Homo sapiens: one gene and its partners. The protein of the gene in region 2 binds, or shares a complex with, the protein of the main gene of each other region. Each region holds a gene or a part of one and is shown on either strand. Other genes may lie near its edges.

Region 1 (7,274 bases), on a different chromosome or scaffold from region 2:
TTGGGAGGCCGAGGTGGGTGGATCACCTGAGGTCAGCAGTTCGACACCAGCCTGGCCAACATGGTGAAACCCTGTCTCTACTAAAAATACAAAAATTAGCTGGGCGTGGTGGCAGGTGCCTGTAATCCCAGCTACTTGGGAGGCTGAGACAGGAGAATCGCTTGAACCCGGGAGGCAAAGGTTGTGGTAAGCCGAGATCGGATCACTGTACTCCAGCCTCAAAAAATAAAATAAATAATTAAGAAAAAGAGAGATGGATGTCCTTTTGGCTTAGGTTCTTGGGTCCTTGGTTGTGCCCAGTGTTCCTTCAAACGGATGGCATTCAACAAATACTTGAGCTGGGCCAGGGAGTTTCACTCACTGACATCAAGGGTGAGTTAATATGGTTGAGAATGGTCCCCACACTTCTTTCCCTGGTGACACACACTTCTTATATGTTTTTATTGTACAGTGCAAAAAGGCAGATCTCTTCATTTTATTGTACAGTGCAACACTGTACAATAAAAATACAATGCCATCCACATGTACAATTTAAAATTTCCTAGTGGCCACATTAAAAAAAAGTAAAAAGAAATAGGTGAAATTAGTCTTCATAACATATTTTCTTTAATCCAGTAAATCCAAAATATCATTTCAACAAATGATCAATGTAAAAATTATAATGAGATATTTTACCTTCTATTTGTCCTAAGTCTTTGAAATCAGGTGCATTGTTTTATACTTACAGCGCATCTCAATTGGGAGTAGCCACATTTCAAGTGCTCAGTAGTCACCTGTGGCCCATGGCTCCTATATTGGACAGTGAAGCTCAACATTCTCCAGGTGAGATGTGGAGGTGATTATTCTGGGGCCACTCTGCTCTCCAAATTAAGCTGCCTAACTAGCTAAATCAAGATAAAAGGGATAGAATACAATGAAGTGTATTCAAATATATGAATAGCTATGGAGCTTTAGAAATGGGATTTTAGGCTATGGGTGCGGTAGTTCATGCCTGTGATCCCAGAACTTTTGGAGGCTGAGGTGGGAGGATCATATGAGTCCAGGAGTTTGAGATCAGTCTGGGCAACATAGTGTTACCTGGTCTCTACAAAAAATTAAAAAATGAACTGAGTATGGTGGTTTGTCCTGTGGTCTCAGCTACTTGGGAGGTTGAAGTGGGAGGATCACTTGACCCCAAGAGTTTGAGGCTGCAGTGAGTTATGTTGAGCTGTGTTTGCACCACTGCACTCCAGCCTGAGCAACAGAGCAAGACCCTGTCTGAAAACAATAACAACAACGACAAAAAACTCCAGGGCTTTGGGAGGCTGAGATGGGTGGATCACCTGAATTCAGAAGTTCGAGACCAGCCTGGCCAGCCTGGCCAACGTGGTGAAACCCTGTCTCTACTAAAAATACAAAAAATTAGCTGGACGTGGTGGTGGGCACCTGTAATCCCAGCTACTCGGGAGGCTGAGGCAGGAGAATCGCTTGAACCCGGGAGGTGGAGGTTGCAGTGAGCTGAGATCACACCACTGCACTCCAGCCTGGGCAACAAGAGTGAAACTCCGTCTCAGAAAAAAAAAAAAAATTTAAAAAGTGTTTTGGTATCACAATCAGCAAGAAGCCTTTTTTAGGGTTATATAGTTATGTGACCCCTCATTGAAACATCATTCTTATTTATTATTTTATTCTAATCCAAGTTGTCCATTTGCTCATTTTTCTTGGATTAATGAGTTTAGAAAACTAAATGTGATGGCTAATTTCACTTTCTGTTGTGCCTTGTTTTTTGGATTCCCTACATTCCATATGCCGTAAGGAAAGAATTAATTATCTCTGTAAGAAATAATAACATGGATTGAAAGCTTGCTGTGTGTCAGACACTTGACATGTATTACCTCATTTAATCCTGGCAAGTAAATATGCCCAAGGTAACCCAGCTGGTAAATAGTGGACTCAGGCTGGTAGATTCCAGAGCTCATACTTCTGCCATGTACAGCACTATGAAATTGCCCCAGAACTGCCAAACTTCTCCAAAACTGTTTAAGGATACTGTCCTCTTTAAACATGCCTACTCTTTGCTTTTGAACCTTCTGGTTAAAAAAAAAAAAAAAAAGAAATCTTTATATTTTGATCTATAATGTAAACATTAAAGTAAAATAACTCTTTTGTTAAATATAAGTGTTTCTTTAAAAGTCATAACTGTATTGATAGAGTTAAAATGACATTCCATTGGGTTACAAAAAGCAAGGCTATCCTTTTTTTTTTTTTAAAGTACTGTCTTTAATTCACTATTTTCCAATCCAATCAATAAATCTGATCTGACATTTTCAAGTTCGTTAGGTAGTTAGAGATTATGCTGGTTTCTGCATCCAGGCCTTAACACAATAAATGATATGTACATGCTTAGAGTATGTGTTTTCTTTAATATGTAATATACATTTGTTTTTTCTCTCTTCCCCCATTGTAAATCTTGTTCAGGACATGCTCTACATTTCCTCCTTTATCAGGCTGCATGTAAGAAAATACGTTGTCGTCTACTAATCTGAATTGTTGTGTCTTTGATACCTCAAAGAGGTTATTGGGAGTTCTAACTGATAATTCAAACTCATACTTCTTGGGTCAGAATACAGTTCTTGCTTTTCAATGATGTCAAGGCCCACCTCAGGCAAAGTATAGGCTTCTGAACCAATTTCTTGTCAAATTAGTAAAGAAGGGATTTTTCAAACTTCAATTTTGGAAAAGGAGATAACTTTTTCAAACTGTAATCTCTGCCAAGATGCTATGCAAAGGATTTACAAAGGAATCTATAGAACTCAATTCTGCTTCTTAAATACGCAGAGAGGAGTTAAAGATTTCAAATCTTTTAAAAACATAGTGATTCAGCCACGTTCTGTTTATCTGTAAATCTAATAGTGTATGTAGTTGAACTCTTAAAATTCTGGAATGTTTATTTTATTTTATTCATTGTCTTGAGAGGAGCAAAAGGAAGCGAGAGGGCATAGCTTTGAAGAACTGGCAATTTGGCAACTTCTCTCCCCTTGCCACCCCTCCCCCACTATCTTAGCTATTTGATCTGATTAAACAGCTTTGGAATGGTAGCCAGACTTCTGTATGCTAACGAGGCCCCTACCCTATTCGCGATTTAATGCGATTTCATCCCCCCAGAGCTTCCCGGTGCCCAGTGGAAGCCTGACTTCGCAGAAGTCTCCCAATTTTGTCAGGGGCTCGCCAGTGAAGAGTTCACACTGACTTGAAGCAGACACAGACTCATTGGACGCCTCGGGTCACATCGGATTATTCATTAGCAAATTCTTTCCACCTTCTATCTAAGTAGTGAAAGGTGACGCCAGAATCGCGTGTGCCACTCCTCTAAAGGGACCCTGATAACACCCAGTCCAGGCTCTACAACTTCTGCCTAGTCACTTGCTTCCTAGCAGTAGAAAGTTTCCAAAGGTTGCCTTAAGTCCTCCCTACCCCTAAGCCTAAAGATCAGAGCTCCAGGTCCCACCACCTAGCAGGAATCTGAGCATTTTGGAAGTTTCTGGTGTAGAGGGAAGAACCGAAGGGGTGGTAGCGGGGAACCGCGCAGAGTAACCCCCCTGCACTACGTAAGGAAAGCCCTGGCTGCAGGAGGGAGCGAGCCTGACATTGAGACGTTCCAGGGGGAGGGTGAGTTGCTGTCCTGGAGTCGCCAGGAACAGCAGCGACAGTTCCAAGAAGCGAGAGAGGAAGGTGGCCGAGATAAAGAGAACACTTCGGGAATAAGAATATTAAAAAGCGGCAGGACCCAGAGCATTAGCAAACGGCAGAGCACATGTAGTAATTTGTTAACACGAAACGGCAGCCTTCCAACTTTTGCACTGAAACACGGGGATTTACCCTTTGGGGGATTAAAAATGTTGATACGCAAAGCCAAAGGCTAATGAATAGGATTCAGTGGCTTGCTGGCAATATTTAAATATTTCTGTCCGGGAGCGCAAACTCTTCTGCAGTTATTTAGAAAAGTAGGGAGTTAAACCAAACTATAATACTCTCCCGTGCGTCTCCACTTTCCCCAGCCCGAAAAGGAGCTACCAGCGCTGTACTGCCCCTTTAAGACCTGCTGGCTCTCGGGCTCTACAAAAGGGAGTGACCTCTGGGCTTTGACAGCTCTCCTAATAACTACCACGGCGCAGGCCCCGCCCACCTAGCTACCAGCAGCGCCGATTGGCCGGCGGGCCGGTATCCCGCGCTGTGATTGGCCCGTCGCTTCCCCTGAGCGAACCTTTAGAACTCTGAGACAATATTCTGTTACATTGTAGCAAAATGGCGACTGTCATTCACAACCCCCTGAAAGCGTAAGTAAGACTAAAAAATGTACATATTCCGCGTGGTTTCAATATGAAAAAAAAGGCGCCTTCTGCGTGGCGAGCGCTGCCAGAGCATTGCGCTTGCAGGCGCCTCCAGCCGCGGCGGGGCTTCTCTCTTCTTTCAGCTCTTACTTCTTCATCTTCTTTTTTTCCCCCAACGCGCAGAAATGTCAGGAGATGCAATTAACAAGAAGAAAATTGTTACATTTGTGTTCTGCTAAATTGCAGAGAGAGCCAGATATAGGGGTTGCAGGCGGAGAAGCCCGGCGCTCGAGCGCTCTACAGCAGGAGGGTCGCGGGAGCTCGGGGACGGCGCGGTCCCCGGAGTCCCCCGCCTCGCGGGCAGGGAGCGCGGCTTCGGGGGCTGCTGGGCGGGGGGCGAGCGTCGGGCAGTGGCCGCCTCGGTGTACTTGGCCGAGCCCCGCGCCCCCGAGCCCGCGGCCCCCGCCCCGCCGCTGGGTCCGCTGGGTCCAGCGGACGGACCGCGGAGGCTCCGGAGTTTGCAGGGCGCTCTTCGCCTTCCGATCGCTCGCGGGGAGTTTGTGCAAACCTTCCGGAGTTGGAGCACCGCGGGGGAAGCAGCGGGTCCCGGGCGTGCTGGGGCCCAGGTGGTCGCCCCGGGCTTTCCCCGGCAGCCCCCGGATCTCGGAGGCGCTCCGGGCGATCGAGCGTGTGTCTGCTCGTGTATTTGCGAGCGAGCTGGCTTTAGTGGATTAACGACTCGGGTTAACTTGGGGTGGATTTGGAGGCAGGGAAGCCGCAGGTCTTATGAATGGTGTTCTCGCCACCTCTGGGTGAGGCGCTGAGGCAGGCGGAGAGGCGGTTTTGGGGCTCCTGGCCCGAGGGGGCAGCGTCTGCTCCCGGCCGGGCGAGGGGCAGGTGCCTCTGGCCGCCTCGGGGAGACTTTGAGCGCTTGCCCAGATCCTGGACAGAGTGGGGCGGGCCGGGCGAGGACTCGCGGGGGCCAGCCCCGGGTCCAACAGCCAATTTCTGCCTGCCTGCCTTCCTCCTCCTTTTCATCCTTCCTTCCTTCCTTCCTTCCTTCCTTCCTTCCTTCCTTCCTTCCTTCCTTCCTTCCTTCCTTCCTTCCTTCCTTCCTTCCAGTCAGTGGAACTGTTAAGCCGCCAAGTCCGCTCGCGATCGCGGAGCCAGGGGTGGCCTCGGAAAACTAGTGTCGCTCTGAAAGGGGTGCTATTGGGTGATGTCGGCAGAGGGTGGCTCCCTCCGTATCCGAGGTGGGCTGGGGGGTCCTCACCCCTTCGACCGGGACTTCCCCGCCCGGACGAAGCCGCAGGCGAAGTGGCAGAGGGAGGTGCAGGTCGGGTGGGGGGCGGTTCATGCCGAATTCTCCCTGGTGCGTGGCCGCTGTCGACCCTGGTTCTTTTAATTCAGCGCATTCTCGTCTTCACCCCTGGCCACTCCTGGAGTTGAAAACCAGGTTCGCTCCCGGGGACGGTAGGGGGTTCCTAACGCAAAGGAATGCACAGGGAGAATCGGACGTGTTTGCGCCAGCTCGTCGCCCATCAGAAATAGGGAAAGGGGTAGGAAGGCCCCAGGTTTCAAATATATTTATATGAAAGCTGCCGTTAAGAGGACGTTGGAAGCTGAGGCTGATCAGATAGGAGCTCCTGGCTTCAGTTCTGGCTCGGAAGCTCGGATACACTGCGCTTGAACGCCACAGCGTTTCACCCAAGAAAGAAAATGTTTTATGGCAGAATAAATGGGCGTAACTTCGCCGCATCCTCGCTGCCGGTTGCTTTCGCTGCAACACCGCTGATGCTGTTTCTACCGAACCCACAACTGATTTTCAGTTTCCCCATTTCCAGCCGAAATCACATAACCGGGCTGATGCCACCTGGTAAACTCAAGTTAGAGAACCTATTTCACATGTGCACCAGGTTTGTTTCCTCCTGGGAAAGCCGTACCCTAGTTACCCGGGAGCCCGCTTTCGCGCGGGCGGGCGCAGTATCTCTAAGCTTGTGTTCCCCTACTCGCTCCAGGGTTTTTTGGATCACAGTAGGGTGCGTGTTTGGGGAGGGAGTCTGTGTAGGGTGGGGTTAAGGGTGGGGGAAGGGACAGACGCGGGAAAGAAGGTGGCGGAATTCTGGCCGGTTAGTGGAATTAGTTCTGAATTGTACTTTGTATAATTAGAAACAGTTGCAACGTGATGTATTTGTAATTGTGTTGCCACCCACATGCAGACACTAGCATACACACAACGCCCCTGCTTGCTTTTTCTAGGTGGGAGTTGCTTGGTCATTTATAATTAGCTATTCCTTTCTGCTTCCCAGACCCTTTCCCTGTGAGTAAAGGGGTATAAACAATACCACTGACCAGCCCAGCCTCTCACACCCTGGACAGTTTTTGACAACTCCTAACGCAGGAGCACACACGTTGTTATTGGGAGAGGGACACCATCTGCCTTTATTTTTTTAAAAATAACTTGTTTAATAAAACATCTTATATATTTCATTTGTTTTTAAAAGTTGCTGATCAGGAAACAATACACACGTGAATAAATTATGCATGGGATAAATTAGAACAAAGTGCAGAGACACATCCAGCCGAAGGGATGGTGGTGGTGCAGGGAGGAGGGGTAGCGGGGAGAATGGTTTGGAGAGCTATGTTTTTATCCTCATGTGTCCCTCCTGACAATGAAACAGAGCTGAACGACATTAGCATTTTCTCTGTGTGCGTTCTGAGTCTCTCTCTTCCCTCCAAAAAAAAAAAAGCCAACACCACGGACGTCTCCTACAGAAAATGGTCACACAAAGGTTTCCTCAGGATGGGGGGATAAAGTGGTGGTAGTTAATGTGTTGGGAAGAAACAAGCTCAGATTTCCAGCAGCACCTATGCAGGGCTCTGCCTACGCTGAGTATGGGCTATTTTTCACTGTACTAGCTTTTTCCACGTGGGACATTCAATAATTCAATTAGCTGGGGTGAT
Region 2 (7,022 bases):
AGACGTAAATGTTGATCGTGCAGGCTTTTGAGCAGGGGAGGTGATGTCATCAGAATTGTGATATAGGGCAGTGCAGTGGTCTCTAAACTTCTTGTCAGTGAGGAGCATTCCAACATATGTGTATTTATTTACAATTTATTTGTGTACCTTTGCTTCTCCTTGGGAACCCTCAAAACACCAGGAGATAACCTTAGACCATTCCATGTTTTGGCTGTTTGTGGGAGGTGGGAGCATGGGAGGGACTAGGGTTTTGGGCAGATGTCTGGTGGAACTTTCTTTCTTTCTTTCTTTTTTTTTTGAGACGGAATCTTACTCTTGTTGCCCAGGCTGGAGTGCAATGGCACGATCTCGTCTCACTGCAACCTCTGCCTCCCGGGTTCAAGCGATTCTTCTGACTCAGCCTCCTGAGTAGCTGGGATCACAGGTGTGCACCACCACACCTGGCTAAGTTTTGTATTTTTAGTAGAGATGGGATTTCATCATGTTGGCCAAGCTGGTCTTGAACTCCTGACCTCAACTGATCCACCCACCTTGGCCCTTGGCCTCCCAAAGTACTGGGATTACAAGTATGAGCCACCGCGCCCGGCCTCTTTTTTTTTTTTTCTTATGAGACAGAGTCATTCTGTCGCCCAGGCTGGAGTGCAGTGGTGCGATCTTGACTCACTGCAACCTCCGCCTCCTGGTCTCAAGCGATTCTCATGCCTCAGCCTCTGGAGTGGATGGGACTAAGGACGTGCACCACCATGCCCAGCTAATTTTTGTATTTTAGTAGAGACCGGGTTTCACCATGTTGGCCAGAACTCCTGGTCTCGAACTCCTGGCCTCCTGTAATCTGCCCACCTCGGCCTCCCAAAGTGTTGGGATTATAGGCGTGAGCCACCGTGCCCAGCCAGTCTGGTGGAACTTTCTATCAGTAAGGAAACTGAGGCCTAGGGTTATTTTCTTTCCACAAGGGTTGTCAAGTCAACCACCTGGGTTTGACTCCTGGTTTTGTCTTTCCATCCCTCGGTCATCAAGGCTGCCATGGCACAGAAGGACCCATTCATGGTGCCTGTAGACAGAACACAATGTGAATAGTGCCCCCTGGAGTTGTGCAAGAAATGACCCAGCCACTCTTCCCCATTTATGTGGCGAACAAGCATGCATTGAGCGCCTGCCATGTGCCAGGCACTGCTGGGGAGCTGGGGATTCCATGGGGAACAGGCAGACAAGGGTCCTGTTCTTAGTAGCTCACACCCCACTCTTGACTTGCAAAGGGGGACAGTACTAGTACCCAGCTTGTAGGATTGCTGCAAGAGCTGAACAACCAGTGACAAATGCGAAGTGCTTAGAATGGTGCCTGGCACATAGTGCTAAACAGTTGTTAGTGCTCATCATTTATTAGGATTCCTGCAACAGCCTGGTGGGATGACACAGATAATATACTTTTTCCTCTAGTCATAAGTTCTGTATGTTTCAAAGTGGTAGCAAAGGAGTCAGCTCCTCCATTTTGTCCTTAATGGCTGCACATTGTTTAACAGCAGGGATGCATTCTGAGGAATGCGTTGTGAGATGATTTTGTGGTTGCGTGAAGATGATAGAGTGTGCTTACACACGTCTAGATGGTGGAGCCTAGTCCACATGTAGGCTCTGTGGTATAGCCTATTGTTCCCAGGCTATACACCTGTACAGCATGTCACTGTACCGATTATTGTAGGCAGTTGTGACCCGATAGTATTTGTGTATCTAAATATATCTAAACAGAAAACGTATGGGAAAAATACAGTATTATGATCTTTAAAAAATTTTTCTAATTAGACAATTCAAGGAGGAAGGTATAATCTTATGGGACTATTGTATATTTGGTCCATCATTGACCAAAATGTTATGTGGTGAAGAAAACCATGCTTTGAAATTTCACCATAAGGCATTGGAAAAGGGAGAGTGTGTTTAGTGGCATGGTTTTTTTTTTTTTTTTTTTTTTTTTTTTTGAGGTGAAGTTTCGCTCTTGTTGCCCAGGCTGGAGCACAATGATGCGGTCCTGGCTCACTGCAACATCCGACTGCAGAGTTCAAGCAATTCTCCTGCCTCAGCCTCCCGAGTAGCTGGGATTACAGGTGCCCGCCACCATGCCTGGCTAATTTTTTGTATATTTAGTAGAAACGGGGTTTCACCATGTTGACCAGGCTGGTCTTGAACTTCTGACCTCAGGTGACCCACCTGCCTCAGCCTCCCAAAGTGCTGGGATTACAGACGTGAGCTACCGCGCCCGGCCAGGTTTTTAAAAATATCAAATGTTCAGCCGAGTGTGGTGGCTCATGCCTGTAATTCCCACACTTTGGGAGGCCCAGCAGGGCAAATCACTTGATCCCAGGAATCCAAGACCAGCCTGGGCAGCATGGCGAAACCCCGTCTCTACAGAAAAGTTAAAAAATTAGCCAAGCATGGTGTTGCACACCTGTAGTCCCAGCTACTTGGGAGGTTGACGTGGGAGGATCAAGCCGAGGAGGTGGAGGCTGCAGTAAGCTGTGATCGCACCACTGCACTCCAACCTGGGTGACACAACAAGACCCTATCTTAAAAAAGCCGGGGGTTGGGCTGGGCGCGGTGGCTCATGCCTGTATTCCTAGCACTTTGGGAGCCGAGGCGGGCGGATCGCCTGAGCTCAGGAGTTCAAGACCAGCCTGGGCAACATTGTGAAACCCCGTCTCTACGAAAATACAAAAGAAATTAGCTGGGCATGGTGGTGTGCGCCTGTAGTCCTAGCTACTTGTGAGACTGAGGCAGGAGAATTGCTTGAACCCGGGAGGCCAAGGTTGCAGGGAGCCGAGATCGTGCCGCTGCACTCCAGCCTGGGCGACAGAGCAAGACTACGTCTCTACAAAAGAAAAAAAAAAAGCCGGGGGTTGGGAAGGATAACAGCTGCTGGAATACTGGGGGAAGGTATGAGAGGGAACAGGTCAGAATGAAGCCTGAGGCTGAATGGAGCTTCAGGTGCTGCCACCCTCATAGGTGTCAACCCTAAGGAGACATAGCGGACTCATTAGTATGCCCAGTGATTTCTTGATTGAAGTTTTCTGTTAACTGCATCCTAAGGACATTAATCATTAATTTTTCAGGGTGTGGGATTGATGGGCATGTGATTTGTGGCCTCAACTCTTCTTCATATATGGGAAAGGGCCTGGATGGAAGTGCCAGGTGTAGCTGGGTTTGTTGTTACAGGGCAGAGAGAAGGGACACATTGATTTCCCTCCAATTCCCTCAGGGAAGGGGGCTTTCTTGTTTTTATTTTATTTTATTTTATTTTATTTTTTGAAATGGAGTCTTGCTCTCTCTCTGTCGCCCAGGCTGGAGTGCAGTGGCACGATCTCAGCTCACTGCAAGCTCCCCCTTCCGGGTTCACGCCATTCTCCTGCCTCAGCCTCCTGAGTAGCTGGGACTACAGGCGCCCGCCACCACGCCCGGCTAATTTTTTGTATTTTTAGTAGAGACGGGGTTTCACCATGTTAGCCAGGATGGTCTTGATCTCCTGACCTCGTTATCCGTCTGCCTCAGCCTCCCAAACTGCTGGGATTACAGGCGTGAGCCACTGCGCCCGACTGGAAGGGGGCTTTCTTTAGAAAATAGGTAAATGTTAGTAGGGTGGAAACCAACCCTGGCCCCTTTCAAATGTGTGGTTTTTTTTTTTTTTTTTGGAGACAGTTGTACTCTTTTCTCCCAGGCTGGAGTGCAGCGGTGTGATCTCGGCTCACTGCAACCTCTGCCTTCCAGGTTCAAGCAATTCTCCTACCTCAGCCTCCTGAGTAGCTGGGATTACAGGCGTGCGCCACCATGCCCGGCTAATTTTGTATTTTTTTTTAATTTTTATTTATTTATTTATTTTTTTGAGACGGAGTCTTGCTTAGTTGCCCAGGCTGGAGTGCAATGGCACGATCTTGGCTCACTGCAATCTCCGCCTCCCGGGTTCATGCCATTCTCCTGCCTCAGCCTCCCGAGTAGCTGAGACTACAGGCGCCCACCACCATGCCCTGCGGGGGTTTCACCATGTTAGCCAGGATGGTCTTGATCTCCTGACCTCATGATCCGCCCGCCTCAGCCTCCCAAAGTGCTGGGATTACAGGCGTGAGCCACTGCGCCCGGCCAGTAATTTTGTATTTTTAGTAGAGACGGGGTTTCTCCGTGTTGGTCAGGCTGGTCTCAAACTTCTGACCTCAGGTGATCCGCCTGCCTTGGCCTTCCAAACTGCTGAGATTACAGGCATGAGCCACCACTCCTGGCCTCAAATGTTTTTTTAAGTCCCAGACTGGTTTCCAGAGCTTTGCTTTTGGGGACTCTGTTACCTCCCTAAAGGGGCATAGCTTCATTTATGTATGTGGACACTTGTCACTGTGAACCGTTTTGCTCTGTGTGCAGCCAGCTGTGAGTGTGATAGAGTAGCACGGGCCCCGTTTTTAATAGTGATCGACTTTAAAATGGTTCTTTGAGGAGGTGTTTTTTTTTTCTTTCCACTTTTTATTTTTTTAGAGACGGAGACTCGCTGTGTTACTTAGGCTGGTCTTTAACTCCTGGACTCAAGTGATCCTCCAGCCTCCACTTCCTGACTAGCTGTGATTACAGGCGTGATCCACTGTGCTAGCTCTTGGGAGTTTTTTAAGTTTTCTCTTTGCCACTGGCAAGTCACGCCCCAGTGGCTCAGGAAGCAGGTGGCTGATGTGACAGTTGCTGCTCACCTGTTCCAGTGGGAGACTTGAGGGGGAGGGTCTGCTGTGTGCGACCCATCTTGCTCCGAAAGTCCCAGTAAAGGGGCATAGTGGATGTCTCATTGTGCCCAGGGAGCTGAAACTGCCCCTGTGATGATCAAATGTGATTCTGGCACAGCCTGGACTGGCTGGGCACCTGAAGGCCTTGCCTGCCTCCTGGAGGCATCTCCTGGGTGCCTGTGGGAGTGGCTCTTTACTTGCCCTTCCTCTTGACTCTGCCCTTCCTCGACCTTCAAGGTTCTCATCCTATTCCTTTTGATCCTCGGCCTGAATCAGTTACTCAGGCCCTGGAGTCAAAGAGACTTGAGGCGGGATTCTGTTCTGCATGGCTTAACCTCTTTGAACTCAGAATTCCGTTTTCCTCTCAGAATCTCCCTGGCCTCCACCCTCTACCTCAAGAACCAGGGGCTGAACCCCGGCCCTGCCTGTCTTTGCCAAGCCTTGCTCTAGGGCTTGGTCAGCCTCGAGGAAGGGGGGCCTTGTTATGTTTATTTAAAAATTTATGTTTTAGGTTTTACTTTCTTAGAAGTGGAGGTCTTGATGTTATCTCCCAGGCTGGTCTTGAACCCCTTGGCTCAAAGGATCTGCCTACTTCAGCCTCCCAAAGTGCTGGGATTATGGGCGTGAGCCACCACGCCTGGCGCCTTTTTATATTTCTTTCTTTTTTTTTTCTTTTTTTGAGACAGAGTTTGTCTCTTGTTGCCCAGGCTGGAGTGCAATGGCGGGGTCTCGGCTCACTGAAACCTCCGCCTCCTGGGTTCAAGCGATTCTCCTGCCTCAGCCTCCCGAGTAGCTGGGATTACAGGCATGCACCACCACACCTGGCTAATTTTGTATTTTTAGTAGAGACGGGGTTTCTCCGTGTTGGTCAGGCTGGTCTCAAACTCCTGACCTCAGGTGATCCACCTGCCTCAGCCTCCCGAAGTGCTGGGATTACAGGCATGAGCCACTGCACCTGGCCCCCTTTTTATGTTTCTAACAGCACGTCCCAGCCGAGACCCTGGTGTTCACCCTTGCCTCATCTCTTGCCCTCACTTGCACATCCATTCCATCAGCATGTCCAGAGAAATTAAAGTCATTATCAGACCGTGCCACTCCCGTGCCTGGAACATTCTAGCAGCTCCCCACTGCACTGGATGCTCCTGGAACCCCTTTACTGTGGCCCTCAAGGCCTGTGACTTCTCCCCTATGCCCCACCTGTGGCCGCACCCACTTGCCCTCTGAGGTATGATATGGAATATATTTGGTCTTTGCGCCACATGTCATAGGAGTGATAGGTGTGTCTTTTAAAATTCATAATGAGCCCCTTTTGATCACAGCTGAGTTTATGCTTATGAGGTGATTTAGGATGGGGCTCCTAGATAGCCCAGGATGGGGCTGGTTACCAGAAAGACCAAGTGCTTAGAGGGTGGCATGTACGGAGGGGCCATTGAAGCTGTCTGTATTGCTTCCATCTGGTTGACCCCGAGTCGTATCCGTTATAATAAACCATTAATGGGAAGTGAAGTGCCTGCCTTAGTTCTGGGCGCTGCTTTAGCAAATCAATCAAATCGAGGAGGGGGTTGTGGGAATTCCCAATTTATAGGTGGCTGGGCAGAAGTACTGGACCCTGGGATGTGCAAATGGCATTTGTAGTGGGAGCAGTCTTATGGGACAGCTCTTTTTCTTTTAGAGACAGAGTGTCACTCTCACCCAGGCTGGAGTGCAGTGATACAGTCATAGCTCACTGCAGTGTCCAGCTCCTGGGCTCATGTCATGCTCCCGAGTAGCTGGGACTACAGGTGTGCACCACTGCCAGGCTTAGCTAATTTTTAAATTTTTTGTAGAGACAGGGTGCTATACTTCCTAGGCTGGTTTCAAACTCTTGGCCTCAAGCAGTCCTCCCACTTTGGCCTCCCAAAGCACTGTGCTTAGGTGAGCCCACTGCATCTGGCCGATAAAGTCCTTAACTTGTGGGAGATAGAGTCTGAATTGAGTTAAATTGTAGGACACCCAGCTGGTGTTTGGAGACTTGGAGAATTACTTGGAAAAGACCCACGCATCTGGTCACAGAATTGTTCTCGGTTATGAGAGTATAGTAGAAGAAAACTGGTTTTCTCTGAGTTGGTGTCAAAAGTGCTGTGTGAGAGTGTAGAGAAACGGAGTGTGGGCCAGGCACGGTGGCTCACGCCTGTAATCCCAGCATTTTGGGAGGCTGAGGCGGGTGGATCACCTGAGGTCGGGAGTTTGAGACCATCCTGACCAACATGGAGAAACCTAGTCTACTAAAAATACAAAATTAGC
Region 3 (7,022 bases), on a different chromosome or scaffold from region 2:
GGCTGCAGCCAGTGCCACTCGTGAGTGGACAGAACAGGAAACCCTGCTTCTCCTGGAGGTAATTGGGGCAAAGAAAAGAGAGTTTTTCTCTGAAAACAGAAGTGGGCTCCGTGTAGAGGCTCACGCCTGTAATCCCAGCACTTTGGGAGGCCAAGGCAGGAGGATCACTTGAGTCCAGGAGTTCGAGATGAACCTGGGCAACATAGTGAGACTCCGTCTCTACGAAAAATTTTAAAAATTAGCCAGGTGTGGTGGCACACACCTGTGGTCCCAGCTACTCAGGAGGCTAAGTGGGAGGATTGCTTGAGCCTAGGAGGTCAAGGCTCCAGTGAGCTTCAGGACCAGCTCCAGGCTGGGGATTTGGGCCATTTCATTAACTTCATATCCTTTCTTAGTGCTACTTCAAGATCCCCCTTGGACCTAGCAGAGTACACAAATACCAGAACATAGAGAACTTTGAAACCAGCTGCCCTTAGTAGGATGGGGGGAGTCAGCCTTCGAGAAAAGTGGCTAAGTAAGCGGAGTTATGTCTCCACCACTACCACCAGGCACTGGAAATGTACAAAGATGACTGGAACAAAGTGTCCGAGCATGTGGGAAGCCGCACACAGGACGAGTGCATCTTGCATTTTCTTCGTCTTCCCATTGAAGACCCATACCTGGAGGACTCAGAGGCCTCCCTAGGCCCCCTGGCCTACCAACCCATCCCCTTCAGTCAGTCGGGCAACCCTGTTATGAGCACTGTTGCCTTCCTGGCCTCTGTCGTCGATCCCCGAGTCGCCTCTGCTGCTGCAAAGTCAGCCCTAGGTAATGGGGGTGGGTGGTTCCACCTGGCCTTCTTAGTTTGCTTTTGAAGGGCTAGTTACTCAGACTGTGAATCCTCTCAAGTTTGGCTGCCCTGCTGGCCTTGTCTGTGCGGGCCTCAGCTCAGGCACCTGTCTAGGCTCCATACTAGCTTAGATGAAGACATGGGCTTGTGAGTAAGCTTTTGCAGGGATTGCCAGAACTGTTCCACTGTGCCGCTCCCAGCCTCATTCTTTCTGGGTCTTGCAGAGGAGTTCTCCAAAATGAAGGAAGAGGTACCCACGGCCTTGGTGGAGGCCCATGTTCGAAAAGTGGAAGAAGCAGCCAAAGTAACAGGCAAGGCGGACCCTGCCTTCGGTCTGGAAAGCAGTGGCATTGCAGGAACCACCTCTGATGAGCCTGAGCGGATTGGTAAGGCCAGGCAGGTTCCCAGATTTCTTGCCTTTCACAAGATCCAGAGCTACCTGGCCTCCTGTGCCATTTCTGCCTCAAGTTGGCATTAGAGCACAACATGAATGAGAACATTGGTAGGGTTTTTATTTTCCCCATGAGTTTACCTCAGGGGCTCTGGAGCCCTACTAGTCCTCTCATGAAGATTTTGGGTAGAAAAATCTTTGCTTGTAGAAGGGGCTGTTAGAAAAGTCTTGTGAAGGCCGGGCGCAGTGGCTCATGCCTGTAATCTCAGCACTTTGGGAGGCCGAGGTGGGTGGATCACGAGGTCGGGAGTTCAAGACCAGCCTGGCCAAGATGCTGAAACCCTGTCTCTACTAAATATACAAAAATTAGCTGGGCGTGGTGGCACGTGCCTGTAATCCCAGCTACTTCAGAGGCTGAGGCAGGAGAATCACTTAAACCTGGGTGCCAGAGGTTGCAGTGAGCCAAGATCAAGCCACTGCACTCCAGCCTGGGCAACAGAGCAAGACTTCGTCTCTCAAAAAAAAAAAAAAAAAAAAAAAAGTCTTGTGAAGGCTGGGTGCAGTGGCTCATGCCTGTAATCCCAGTACTTTGGGAGGCTGAGGTGGGCAGATGGTTTGAGACCAGTCTGGGCAACATGGCAAAATCCCGTCTCTACAAAAAATACCAAAAAAGTTAGCCAGGCATGGTGGCATGCGCCTGTAGCCCCAGATACACAGGAGGCTGAGGTGAGAGAACCACTTGAGCCTGGGAAGTCAAGGCTGCAGTGAGCCATGATTGTGCTACTGCACTCCAGCCTGGGCGACAAGAGTGAGACCCTGTCACAAAAAAACAAAAAACAAAAAAAAACAGGTGTTATGGAGAAGCTGGGTGCAACGGCTCACACCCATAGTCCAAGCTGCTCAGGAGGCTGAGGTGGGAGGATTGCGTGGGCCCAGGAGTTTGAGACCAACCTGGGCAACACAGCAAGACCCTGTCTCTAAAAAAAAAGAAAAGTGTTAGACACAGACGACTGTGTATTAAACATTTCCTGTTTTCTTTCTTTTCTCATGGGCCCAGAGGAGAGCGGGAATGACGAGGCTCGGGTGGAAGGCCAGGCCACAGATGAGAAGAAGGAGCCCAAGGTATAGAGGGATTTCTGGAAGCTGCAGGGGCTGCGTGCAGCACTGTGGTGATGGGGAAGTTGGCCTTGTTCAGCTTAGGTGGGCAAGGGCTGGTTTTGGACGGGGTTGTCTCCTAGAATCAGATCACCTCCAAAGTAAGAGGAATAAATTTAGTTCCCCGTCTGGCCCCTCTGTGTGAGAACTAATCACCCTAATCCCTGATAACTCTCCTTTTCTATCACTGGAATTTCAGGAACCCCGAGAAGGAGGGGGTGCTATAGAGGAGGAAGCAAAAGAGAAAACCAGCGAGGCTCCCAAGAAGGATGAGGAGAAAGGGAAAGAAGGCGACAGTGAGAAGGAGTCCGAGAAGAGTGATGGAGACCCAATAGGTGAGCCTCCCACAAGGGTAGGTGGGGGTGCAGGACAGAGGTGAAGCTGTGGGGCTAACTCAACCCTTGTCCTGGCCCAGTCGATCCTGAGAAGGAGAAGGAGCCAAAGGAAGGGCAGGAGGAAGTGCTGAAGGAAGTGGTGGAGTCTGAGGGGGAAAGGAAGACAAAGGTGGAGCGGGACATTGGCGAGGGCAACCTCTCCACCGCTGCTGCCGCCGCCCTGGCCGCCGCCGCAGTGAAAGCTAAGGTGAGGCCAGACCTTGAAGACCTCAGGGAAGAAAATGTCCACTTCTCTAATCTCATCTCACTTAGAGGAAATCTTTCCTCACTCACACCTTAAATAATGCTGACCTATTTATTTTTTATTTTTATCTCAGGAGGAGGTAAAGTTAGTCATCCCTTCTCTAAGCTTTAAAAAATATATCACCATTGGGCCTGTTTTCAACCCTGTCAGTATTTGACTCCATGTTACCCTTTGCCACACTATCTCCATGTTCTTCTTTTGAGACGGAGTCTTGCTCTGTCAGATCTCGGCTCACTGCAGCCTCCACCTCCCAAGTTCAAGTGATTCTCCTGCCTCAGCCTCCCGAGTAGCTGGGACTACAGGCGTGCTACACCACGCCTGGCTAACTCTTTGTATTTTTAGTAGAGATGGGGTTTCACCATGTTGGCCAGGCTGGTCTTGAACTCCTAACCTCAGGTGATCCACCCGCTTTGGCCTCCCAAACTGCTGGAATTACAGGCGTGAGCCACCGTGCCCAGCCTCCATGCTTGTTTATTTATTTATGTATTTTTTGAGATGGAGTCTCACTCTGTTGCCCAGGCTGGAGTGCAGTGGCACAATCTCGGCTCACTGCAACCTCCACCTCCCAGGTTCAAGCGATTCTCCCACCTCAGCCTCCCAAGTAGCTAGGATTACAGGCACGTGCCAGCATGCCCGGTTAATTTTTGTATTTTTAGCAGAGATGGGGTTTCACCCTGTTGCCCCAGGCTGGTCTCAAACTCCTGGACTCAAGTGATCTGCTCGCCTTAGCCTCCCAAAGCGCTGGGATTACAGGCATGAGCCATCACACCTGGCCAAAATAATTTAATTTTTTAAAAAGGCTGGGCGCAGTGGCTCACGCGTGTAATCCCAGGACTTTGGGAGGCTGAGGCAGGTGGATCACCTGAGGTTGTAAGTTTGAGACCAGCCTGGCCAACATGGTGAAACCCCATCTCTACTAAAAACACAGAAATTAGCCGGCGTGGTGGCGCATGTCTGTAATCCCAGGTACTGGGGAGGCAAAGGCACGAGAATTGCTTGAACCCAGGAGGTAGAGGTTACAGTGAGCTGAGATCATGCCACTGTACTCCAGCCTGGGCAACAGAGTGAGACTGTCCCAAAAAAAAAAAAAGAAAAAAGAAAAAAGACACGGTGGCTCACGCCTATAATCCCAGCACAAAAAAGTCAAGCCCTTTCACCATGGGTTGTGACCACAGCAAATTTGTTCTTATACCTGCCAGCATCCACCCTACCTTTCTTCTGTATTGTCTTCAGTTGGGTCCTCCCACTGATGTGCTGTCTCGCCCCTCCTTCCCTAGCACTTGGCTGCTGTTGAGGAAAGGAAGATCAAATCTTTGGTGGCCCTGCTGGTGGAGACCCAGATGAAAAAGTTGGAGATCAAACTTCGGCACTTTGAGGAGCTGGAGACTATCATGGACCGGGAGCGAGAAGCAGTGAGTAGCAGGAGCCCTGGAACCCTGCTGCGCTGTGCCTCAGTTTAAAATCGGAGGGGCGTGTGTGTGTGTGTGTGTGTGTGTGTGTGTGTGTGTGTGTGTGTGTGTTTCAGTGAAAGAGAGATAAGCAACAGTGGGGAAAGCCTGAGTGTGTGTGTGTGTGTGTGTGTTTCAGTGAAAGATAAGCAACAGTGGGGAAAGCCTGAGACAGACAGGGCTTCAAAGCAGAGCAGGGCAGGAACAGGGCAGGAGTAGGGCAGCCAGTTAGAGACAGTTAAGTGGTCTCACAAGTGAAGTCTGGGGACTGAAGTCCCACAGAAGGTCAGCTCCATGAGGCAGGGACTCTAGTTGGTTGTTTTGATTGCTGCATCTCCAGGTCCTTGAACAGTGCTTGGCCCATAGTAGACTCAAATAGTGATTGAGTGAATGGGCGTAACGGATGATGAGAGAGAGGGTAAGAGCCTCAGATCCAGGAGGTGAACTTGGAAAGGGAATGGGACCGACACAGTGTTGAACCATTTTGTCTTTGGAGGACATAAAAAGAAATAGACAATAGGGACTGGGCACAGTGGCCCACATTTGTAATCCTAGTACTTTGGTACACTGAGGCAGATGGATCACTTGAGCCCAGGAGTTCAAGACCAGCCTGGGTAACATAGTGAGATCTCTGTCTCAACAATTTATTTTATTTATTTATTTATTTATTTATTTGAGACAGAGTTTCGCTCTTGTTGCCCAGGCTGGAGTGCAATGGTGTGATCTTCGCTCACCACAACGTCCGCCTCCTGGGAAGCGATTCTCCTGCCTCAGCCTCCCCAGTAGCTGGGATTACAGGCATGTGCCACCATGCCCAGCTAATTTTGTATTTTTAGTAGAGATGGGGTTTCTCTATGTTGGTCAGGCTGGTCTCGAACTCCCGATCTCAGGTGATCAGCCCATCTCTGCTTCCCAAAGTGCCGGATTACAGGTGAGTCATCACGCTTTTTTTTTTTTTTTTGAGATGGAGTCTTACTCTTTCGCCCAGGCTGGAGTGCAGTGGTGCAATCACGGCTCACTGCAACCTCCGCCTCCTGGGTTCAAGCGATTCTCCTGCCTCACCTCCCGAGTAGCTGGGATTACAGGCACATGCCACCATGACCAGCTAATTTTTGTATTTTTAGTAGAGACAGGGTTTCACCATGTTGGCCAGGCTGGTCTCAAACTCCTGACCTCAGGTGATCCGCCCACCTCAGCCTCCCAAAGCGCTGGGATTTCAGGCATGAGCCACCGTGCCCAGCCCAAACATTTTTTAAAAATAAACAAATTAGCCGGGCGTGGTGGTGCGAGCCTGTGGTCCCAGCTACTCAGGAAGCTGAGGTGGGAGGATCGTTTGAGCCCAGGAGGTCAAGGCTGCACTGAGCCATGTTTGCCCCATTGCATTCCAGCCTGGGTGACAGAGTGAGACCCTATCTCAAAAAAAAAAAAAAGAAGAAAAAGAAATAGAAGATAGGGACCTCAGAGAACTTAAGGTTTAATGGGAGACATCAAATGAATATACAATATGGAGACATCAGAAACAGTTAAGAAGGTTTAAAGTATCTGACAAATTCACATTAAGAGATTGCACATCAGCCGGGCGCGGTGGCTCACACCTGTAATTCCAGCACTTTGGGAGGCTGAGGCAGGTGGATCACGAGATCAAGGAGATCGAGACCATCCTGGCTAACATGGTGAAACCCCGTCTCTACTAAAGAATAAAAAAATACAAAAAATTAGCCCGGCATGCTGGCACACACCTGTAATCCCAGCTACTCGGGAGGCTGAGGCAGGAGAATTGCTTGAACCGGGGAGGCGGAGGTTGCAGTGAGCTGAGATCACGCTACTGTACTCCAGCCTGGGTGACAGAGTGAGACTCAGTCTCAAAAAAATAAAGAGATTGCACATCAAGTTTCTAAGTCCTGAGATCATAGAATAAAGCTAAAGCTCAGAGGCAAATGAATTGATCTGGGATAGCTTCCTAAGAACAGTGACTTTTTAGTGAATTTTGAAGTAAGAAAAGAACTTGAATTGACAAAAGGAACTGGAAGCATTTTCCAAATCAAGGTAATGGCAAGTTCAAAGCTTTGTAGCTGAAGTGAGCTTGGGCCAGGTTAAAGTCATTGCAATAAGAAACCATGTGGGCACTCAGGAGACATAAAGGTCATGGGAATTTGCACGAAGTCGGGTGGGGAGGACAGAGGGAGCACAAGCACAAGATGTAGATTTTGGGAACCTTCTGATTGAGAGGCAGGCTCTTTCAGAAGAAGACAAAGCAGGGGTTGAGGCATTTGCCTTTGGGATCTGCTGAAAATTGGATAACAATACTCAATTGGCACTGGCAGCTGGAGTATCAGAGGCAGCAGCTCCTGGCCGACAGACAAGCCTTCCACATGGAGCAGCTGAAGTATGCGGAGATGAGGGCTCGGCAGCAGCACTTCCAACAGATGCACCAACAGCAGCAGCAGCCACCACCAGCCCTGCCCCCAGGCTCCCAGCCTATCCCCCCAACAGGGGCTGCTGGGCCACCCGCAGTCCATGGCTTGGCTGTGGCTCCAGCCTCTGTAGTCCCTGCTCCTGC
Region 4 (7,363 bases), on a different chromosome or scaffold from region 2:
GAAGGCTACCAATCCCTTTGAGAATACAACTTGCCTGCCCCAGTCCCAGTAAACCCTGCTGCCCCCACGATGTCCTGACCCCACTGACCCCCCTGGCGCCTGCCCCCGCAGGTGACATCGGGGGCCAGATGGGGCTGTTCATCGGGGCCAGCATCCTCACGGTGCTGGAGCTCTTTGACTACGCCTACGAGGTAAGCGGGGGCGAGGCCCGGCACGGGGCCACGTGGGGGCGGGGTCCAGCCCGCCCACCTGCCCCGTCCCCGTCCTAGGTCATTAAGCACAAGCTGTGCCGACGAGGAAAATGCCAGAAGGAGGCCAAAAGGAGCAGTGCGGACAAGGGCGTGGCCCTCAGCCTGGACGACGTCAAAAGACACGTGAGGGAGCGAGCGAGGGCGCCCTCCAGCCCGCCTGTGCCTCCACCGCCCCAGGAACCCCGTCCACCCCCGCCCACCCGCCTCTGCCACCACCTTCTCTCCTTTGCCTCCCGAATGCCCCAGCACTACCTGAAGCCCTTCCGAGGGATAACCCGTCCCTGTCCTGTCCCCTTCCCCCAGAACCCGTGCGAGAGCCTTCGGGGCCACCCTGCCGGGATGACATACGCTGCCAACATCCTACCTCACCATCCGGCCCGAGGCACGTTCGAGGACTTTACCTGCTGAGCCCCGCAGGCCGCTGAACCAAAGGCCTAGATGGGGAGGACTAGGAGAGCGAGGGGGCCCCCAGCTGCCTCCTCACATCTGCCCTGGGGACTCCCCACACTCCGGGGCAGATCTTTCCTCTTGTCTGTGGTAAGGAAGGAGTCTTGACCATAGAGTCCTCTCTCTGCCTCTATCCCATTCTTTTTACATTTAACAAAACTAATCTAAAAAAGAACTAAAAAGGGAGAACGGGGCAAGGGACCTCAGGCTGCCCCTCTCTCCTCCATGCTGCCTCCCCTAGCTCCCAGCCTGAATTCTGTCTATCTAGCTGTCTGCCATCTGAGTGTCCATCTACATTCTGCTGCCACCAGTCACCAAAGGCCCTTCCCAGTGAGGGGTGGAAGGGATCTCTGGGGTCTGGAATTTGGCCCCAAACCAGAGAATGTACCTTAAGGGGGAGGGCTAGTGTGGGGGAGGGAGGCTTCCCCAGCCTTAAGAGACCCTCTCAGCCCAGTGACTGTCCCCAAACCCAAGTCTCCTGGCAGGAACTAAAACCTCAGCCCCACTCTCTCACACCATGTGGAATCTCGTGGGGGTCGGGGATCCCCTTAAGAAGTGGTAATGGGGACAAGATGCGGCCCTGGTGCTGTAGGCTACATCCTGATACCTATAAGTTCACCCCCACCCCACAGCTGCTGGAGAGAAATCCCAAGAGGCAGCCCTTCCTCACCATCCCATTAAAGACCGGGCTGGTTAGCGTCCAGCTCAGGGAGAAGGGCGCTAGTGCCTAACCTCACTGGTCCCTCTCCCGGAGGCCCTTGTAGAGGGCCACGTCCATAAATTTTCTTATGGAACTCTCCCACATCCTCTTCCCCAACTTCATTTGCTTCTCTCAACAACCTCATCTGCATTTTCTATTTCTATATGATACAGACTCTATATTGCTATATCTCTGTATATACTTTCCCAGCCCTGTCTGTCTCCACCCCATCCCCTCTTGTCTCTGAGAACCATTCTCCCACCCCAAGTTCCACCTTCTATGTTTCTACTCCCTCCCTGGTCTCTGAATGCCTTCGCCTGTATAAAGAGTTGGACTCTCTCCCCTGGTGTCTGTACTGTGTACACACATCCCTCTGAGAAGCACAAGGAGACGACACGCGCATTGTAACCTTTGCACTGTCTCAGTGGCGACAAAGGAAGCTGTGAATCACAAGCTCTGCCTCTTTCTGGCCTCACCCTCTCCCCCAACCCGGGCACCCTCGGCCCTCCCTGCAGCCTTAACATTCTCTTCCCCTGCTCCTCCTATCCCATTGCCCTCTGCCCAGCTGACAGTGGCATCCCCAGGGAAGGGGTTGCTGTAGAGATAGCCCCCACCCAGGGGATGGAGGTCTACCCTGGACACTAAGCCAAGTGTGTCAGAGACAGAAGGGAGCTGGGGATTGGCGACTCCTGAAGTTGGGGCAGTGGGATGCTGACAGGCAGAAGCTGAGGTCCTCAGTCAGTGGCCTTTCCTCCTTCTGGGTGCCCAGCCCCCTTTCCTCACCTGATACCCAAGCCCACCACTTTTATTTTCTGGTGAGGTGGGTTTGGGAGGAAAGAGAGGCCTAGAGGAGGAGTTGAAAGCTCTGCTGTTGTCTCACCCTATCTTAATGAGAGACAAGTGAGGTGGAGGGCCTGCCCCCCCTCCCTCCACCAGACACTCCTTCCAGGCCTGAGCCCCAACCCCTCTTCAGGCCTTCCTTCCCTAGCTGTGTCTTGGTCTTCAATCCCAGAACAGGACCTGTGAGCAGCTGCATTGGCCTGGAGCTGGAGAGTAAGGCTGTAGGATCTTTGGAATCTCTTGGTTCCTAAGAGTTTCCTCAGAGATCATACCTCCCCAGAGGGAAGCAGGAATGAGGCCAAAAAGTGTGCATTGGATAGGGGAACAGCAGGCAGGGCTCTGGGTGACGCATGCCTCTGGTCTAATAAACTGGGTTTCAACCATCTCCTCTTCAGTGTTGTTCTCTTATTTGAAAAAGTATTTAGATATTCTCACTAAGTGCCTAAAGCTGAGCTTGGTTTGGGGCCAATTAGGGGATGAGTAAGGAGAAGGTTTGAGTAGGGACACTGTGGTCCCCCTGGGATGGGACAGGCTGACCATTATATCAGGAATAGTTTGAACCACTGGGCAGGGAAAGAGGGAGAAGTCAAAGGCAACAAAGTTCCAAAACAGAATCCCCAATACAAAGGATGCTTTAGAGAGAGAGAGCAGAGTCAAAATTCAAGATAAACTGGAACTTATCATAAAATCTGGAAGCAGGCTGGCACGGTGGCTCATGCCCGTAATCCCAACACTTTGGGAGGCTGAGACAGGTGGATCACTTGCGGCCAGGAGTTCGAGATCAGCCTATGCAACATAGTGAAACCCCCATCCCTATTTTTTTTTTCTTTTTTGAGATGGAGTCTCGCTCTGTCGCCCAGGCTGGAGTGCAGTGGCGCGATCTCGGCTCACTGCAAGCTCCGCCTCCCGGGTTCACACCATTCCCCTGCCTCAGCCTCCCGAGTAGCTGGGACTACAGGCGCCCGCCACCACGCCCGGCTAATTTTTTTGTGTTTTTAGTAGAGACGGGGTTTCACCGTGTTAGCCAGGATGGTCTCGATCTCCTGACCTCATGATCCACCCGCCTGGGCCTCCCAAGTGCTGGGATTACAGGCATGAGCCACCGTGCCCAGCCCCCCATCCCTATTTTTTAATATTTAAAAAAAAAAAAATCTGAGGCCAGGCACAATGGCTCACACCTGTAATCCCAGCATTTTGGGAGGCTGAGGAGCACAGATCGCTTGAGCTCAGGAGTTCGAGACCAACCTGGGCAACATGGCGAAACCCCATCCCTACCAAAAATACAAAACAGTCTGGCATGGTGGTGCATGCCTGTGGTCCCAGCTACTTGGTAGGCTGAGTTGGGAGGATCACTTGAGCCTGGGAGGCGGAGGTTGCAGTGAGCTGAGATGGTGCCACTGCACTCCAGCTTGGGCGAGAGAGAGACAGACCTCATCTAAAAAAAAATAAAAAATAAAAAATAATAATCCGGAAGCAGGTTAGGTCAGAGAGAAAGTTAGGATGAAGTTCCCACGTGAGGTACTTATTGAGGCACTTTATCTGTGGAATGAGTCCCGGGCTATGAGCAAGGGTATCTGGAATCTTGGCTTCGGCTTTATGGCTAACTTGCTGGTTGACCTTTGCCAAGTCATTCACCTGTGAGTTCAGCTTTCCCATTTGTAAAATGGAATAAACTGTGTTTCCCTCCTCAGCCCCTGATAGTTATAGCAGTAAGAAAACGAAACGAAAAGCAGTCAAAGCGTTTTGGAAAGTTAACGCCATGCGCCAAGATGAAGCTATTACTCCAAGCCCCTCTTCATCAGAGGGCTCGAGTTGGGGTTGAGACTGGGGCTGAGGCTGTGGTCCGTCCCCCTTTCCAGGTCCTTGTCTTCCTCCCGTCGGCCTGGGGGCGCCCGCTCACGCGGCCTCTCTATTGCAGAGCTCTTCTCTATGGTTTTCCCTCCCGGACCGTGAAGGCGGGAGGGCGTGGCCAGCACGCCTTTTCCGCTAGTCGCCCCGCTCTATCCCATAGTCTCGCTGCCCTGAGCCTCCCGTGCCGGCCGGCCGGCCGGGGGAACAGGCGGGCGCTCGGGGGGCGCTCGGGGGGCGGGGGGAGTTCCGGTTCCGGTTCTTTGTGCGGCTGCATCGGCGGCTCCGGGAAGATGGCGGCCCGGGCGGGTTTCCAGTCTGTGGCTCCAAGCGGCGGCGCCGGAGCCTCAGGAGGGGCGGGCGCGGCTGCTGCCTTGGGCCCGGGCGGAACTCCGGGGCCTCCTGTGCGAATGGGCCCGGCTCCGGGTCAAGGGCTGTACCGCTCCCCGATGCCCGGAGCGGCCTATCCGGTGAGTGGGGCAGGAGGAGGGGCGCGCGGGCCGGGGGCGGGGCCGAGCGGGGACATGGGAGTGACAGGGGTGGGGGGAGAAGTAGGAGGGACTCCCTTGGGAGGGGTTCGGGCTCTGGGTGGGGGTTGGGGGAGGCAGTGCGCAGAAAGAGAGGGGGAGGCAGTTACACACCTGCTCCTAGGGGCATTGTTTCCCTGGGGAGTCGGTAGAGAACCTGGGTGGGTGAAGTGGGTCCAGGGATACCTGTATGAGGGCCGGAGTGCAAAGGGGCTTGAGCAGCTCCAGTGATCAGAGGAACACAGAACGTGTAGCTGACAAATTGAGGTCAGCTTCTAAAGAGATAGTAGCTAGCAGAGTAAATGTGGAACTGGCGATGTCCGATGTGTCCCATCCAAAATAGACTGAGAATTTGAGTATAATCTGGCTCTCGCTTAGCTTTTGGACTCTGTTTTTCTATGGAGTCACTACTGGAGCAAAGGGTTCTCCTCTCATTGTCCTCCATTCCATCCCTAAACCTTACTTCATTCAAAGATCTCAGGCGTTCCCTGCTTTTCTTTCTTGATGGGGTTTAGCAGGTGAAACCATGACATCTCTGGGTCCTCTCCCCTCTGTAGAGACCAGGTATGTTGCCAGGCAGCCGAATGACACCTCAGGGACCTTCCATGGGACCCCCTGGCTATGGGGGGAACCCTTCAGTCCGACCTGGCCTGGCCCAGTCAGGGATGGATCAGTCCCGCAAGAGACCTGCCCCTCAGCAGATCCAGCAGGTCCAGCAGCAGGCGGTCCAAAATCGAAACCACAAGTAAGATGATCCTGGGGCAGAGGGAGGGAGGGAGGGAGCCTGGGAGGACACAGGTGGTGGGAGTACCTGAACCAAGAAGTGGTGGTGCTGTGTCAGCAGATGGTGCTACAGAACTCATCCTTGAGAATGCTTGGTGGTGGTGGTGGTGGTGGTAGTTCTTTGAGAGAAGCTTTGCAGTCCCTTCACATTACTATAAATGGACGTGCTGACAGCTTATTTTCACGTTCTGACTAGTTCTGTCCCAACCTGATAATAGTATTTATTCCCAACAGTGCAAAGAAAAAGAAGATGGCTGACAAAATTCTACCTCAAAGGGTGAGTCCAGGCTATATGTCTTCTGGAAAGTGTGGTGAGTTTGAGTATAGAGATGATCATCCTAGATTTCAATTAATTTTTCTGTTCCTAAGATTCGTGAACTGGTACCAGAATCCCAGGCCTATATGGATCTCTTGGCTTTTGAAAGGAAACTGGACCAGACTATCATGAGGAAACGGCTAGATATCCAAGAGGCCTTGAAACGTCCCATCAAGGTAACACAGGAAAGTACTAGGCAGAGAGCCAAAGGAGAGGACCCAGGAACCTTCAGCAGAATTAGGATGAGAAATCAAAGGCACAGCACAACTCTCCTTGGCATTTAAATTGCATCTCTCCCTTCCGCCTACAAACTGAGAATTACATTAGGAGGATAAGAACAGAATGGCAAAGGGGGAGGGGCTCTTGATGTCTCTTGCACTACAAATATACCCTTGTCCATGTTTTCGCTGTAACTGCTCTGCTACCTTGGGAACCTGGCACCTTGCATGACTTTGTCCACCTGGCATCCCACTATATGCACTTGTACTTAGGCTGATGGCCAGTACTCCTCTTCTAAATGGAATCTTCATCCACCCACCCAAGGGACTGGGTAGACAGTAAGCCAGTCTGTTAGGAGTAATTTTGGGGTTTGGGGAGACCGTTGTCTTCAACATCAGACCACTGAAGCCCCACGATCAATCCTGTTTCTGCCTTCCTCAGCAAAAACGGAAGCTGCGAATTTTCATTTCTAACACTTTCAATCCGGCTAAGTCAGATGCCGAGGATGGGGAAGGGACGGTGGCTTCCTGGGAGCTTCGGGTAGAAGGACGGCTCCTGGAGGATGTGAGTTCAAGGTCCACAATGGTTGGCATCTAGGGTGGGAGCTGCTGGGAATGAACAGTGTTGTCTGGTCAGCAGGAAGCCTAACTGGTGCTCACAGCTCCTTTTGGGAGCAGTAAGGAGAGGGACACTGTTCCCTGCACTGAAAGACAGTGGTCCTTTGTGTTTGCCCCCACACCTTTGGCCCTCACTGGTATCATATGGAGAACCTTATTGTCCTGGGATCTGATTTGTGGTTTACCTTCCTCTTGGTGCTGCTGGCCATTGGATTTAGCCATATCTGTAGATTATTTAGTTTTTTTTTTTTAATCGAGTTTGCACTTAATTTGAGGCTGTGTTTCCTCTCTGAGTCCTTGTGGTATCTCCATCTTCTCAACTTTCACTGGAGGCACCCCACAGTTTAAGTAGGATAGATTTCTCTTGACAGGCTCTTTGTTGCTTCCTGGGGAGCATCAGCTGACAGGTGATAGTCCCCAAACTTCCCACCCCAGAAGCTCCTCGGGGAAGCTCACCTTTCTCTCATTCCCTTACATTCTCTGGCTCTTATTTTTAGCTGCTCGCAGGCAAGCTAGTTGGAATGCACTTTTGCAGGAGAACCAGGGCTCAGTGTCAGAGCCTCCTTCTCTATATAGGTCCGGTCCATCTGCTGGTGGTGTCATTCTGTCCAAATAAAGCTGTTTTTGTTCTGGCTGCTTATTGCCTGTGATTCATTTCCCCTCTAGAGTCAGACTTTTCTCTGTTCAAACTCGCTTAGTTATGTGCAATGGTTTGCTTAACTTGCCTCATTTCCCTTGGGCAAATGAGATGGGTAAAACAGTGACCCTCTATGTGTTCTAGGCTGCTTCTTCAGGGTTCTGTTGCTACTATGATT

Evidence for each region.
Region 1: SMARCA4 (region 2) and DPF3 share a complex: the UniProt entries of both Homo sapiens proteins name them as parts of the BAF complex.
Region 3: SMARCA4 (region 2) and SMARCC2 share a complex: the UniProt entries of both Homo sapiens proteins name them as parts of the BAF complex.
Region 4: SMARCA4 (region 2) and SMARCD1 share a complex: the UniProt entries of both Homo sapiens proteins name them as parts of the BAF complex.

What each region holds. Positions count from the first base shown.
Region 1 is NC_000014.9:72,891,099-72,898,372, reverse strand, and holds the start of DPF3 (zinc finger protein DPF3), read left to right. Parts: upstream 1-4,271; 5' UTR 4,272-4,284; coding exon 4,285-4,316; intron 4,317-5,723; exon of another isoform or gene 5,724-6,029; coding exon of another isoform or gene 6,030-6,226; intron 6,227-7,274. UniProt on the Homo sapiens protein: Belongs to the neuron-specific chromatin remodeling complex (nBAF complex).
Region 2 is NC_000019.10:10,964,030-10,971,051, forward strand, and holds part of SMARCA4 (SWI/SNF-related matrix-associated actin-dependent regulator of chromatin subfamily A member 4), read left to right. Parts: intron 1-7,022. UniProt on the Homo sapiens protein: ATPase involved in transcriptional activation and repression of select genes by chromatin remodeling (alteration of DNA-nucleosome topology).
Region 3 is NC_000012.12:56,165,464-56,172,485, reverse strand, and holds part of SMARCC2 (SWI/SNF complex subunit SMARCC2), read left to right. Parts: coding exon 1-58; intron 59-548; coding exon 549-807; intron 808-1,053; coding exon 1,054-1,215; intron 1,216-2,277; coding exon 2,278-2,342; intron 2,343-2,574; coding exon 2,575-2,710; intron 2,711-2,790; coding exon 2,791-2,957; intron 2,958-4,291; coding exon 4,292-4,426; intron 4,427-6,786; coding exon 6,787-7,022. UniProt on the Homo sapiens protein: Involved in transcriptional activation and repression of select genes by chromatin remodeling (alteration of DNA-nucleosome topology).
Region 4 is NC_000012.12:50,080,991-50,088,353, forward strand, and holds the start of SMARCD1 (SWI/SNF-related matrix-associated actin-dependent regulator of chromatin subfamily D member 1), read left to right. Parts: upstream 1-4,351; 5' UTR 4,352-4,379; coding exon 4,380-4,556; intron 4,557-5,170; coding exon 5,171-5,358; intron 5,359-5,630; coding exon 5,631-5,673; intron 5,674-5,765; coding exon 5,766-5,888; intron 5,889-6,372; coding exon 6,373-6,495; intron 6,496-7,363. Other genes in the region: ASIC1 (acid-sensing ion channel 1), read left to right, coding at 112-191, 270-374, 555-659. UniProt on the Homo sapiens protein: Involved in transcriptional activation and repression of select genes by chromatin remodeling (alteration of DNA-nucleosome topology).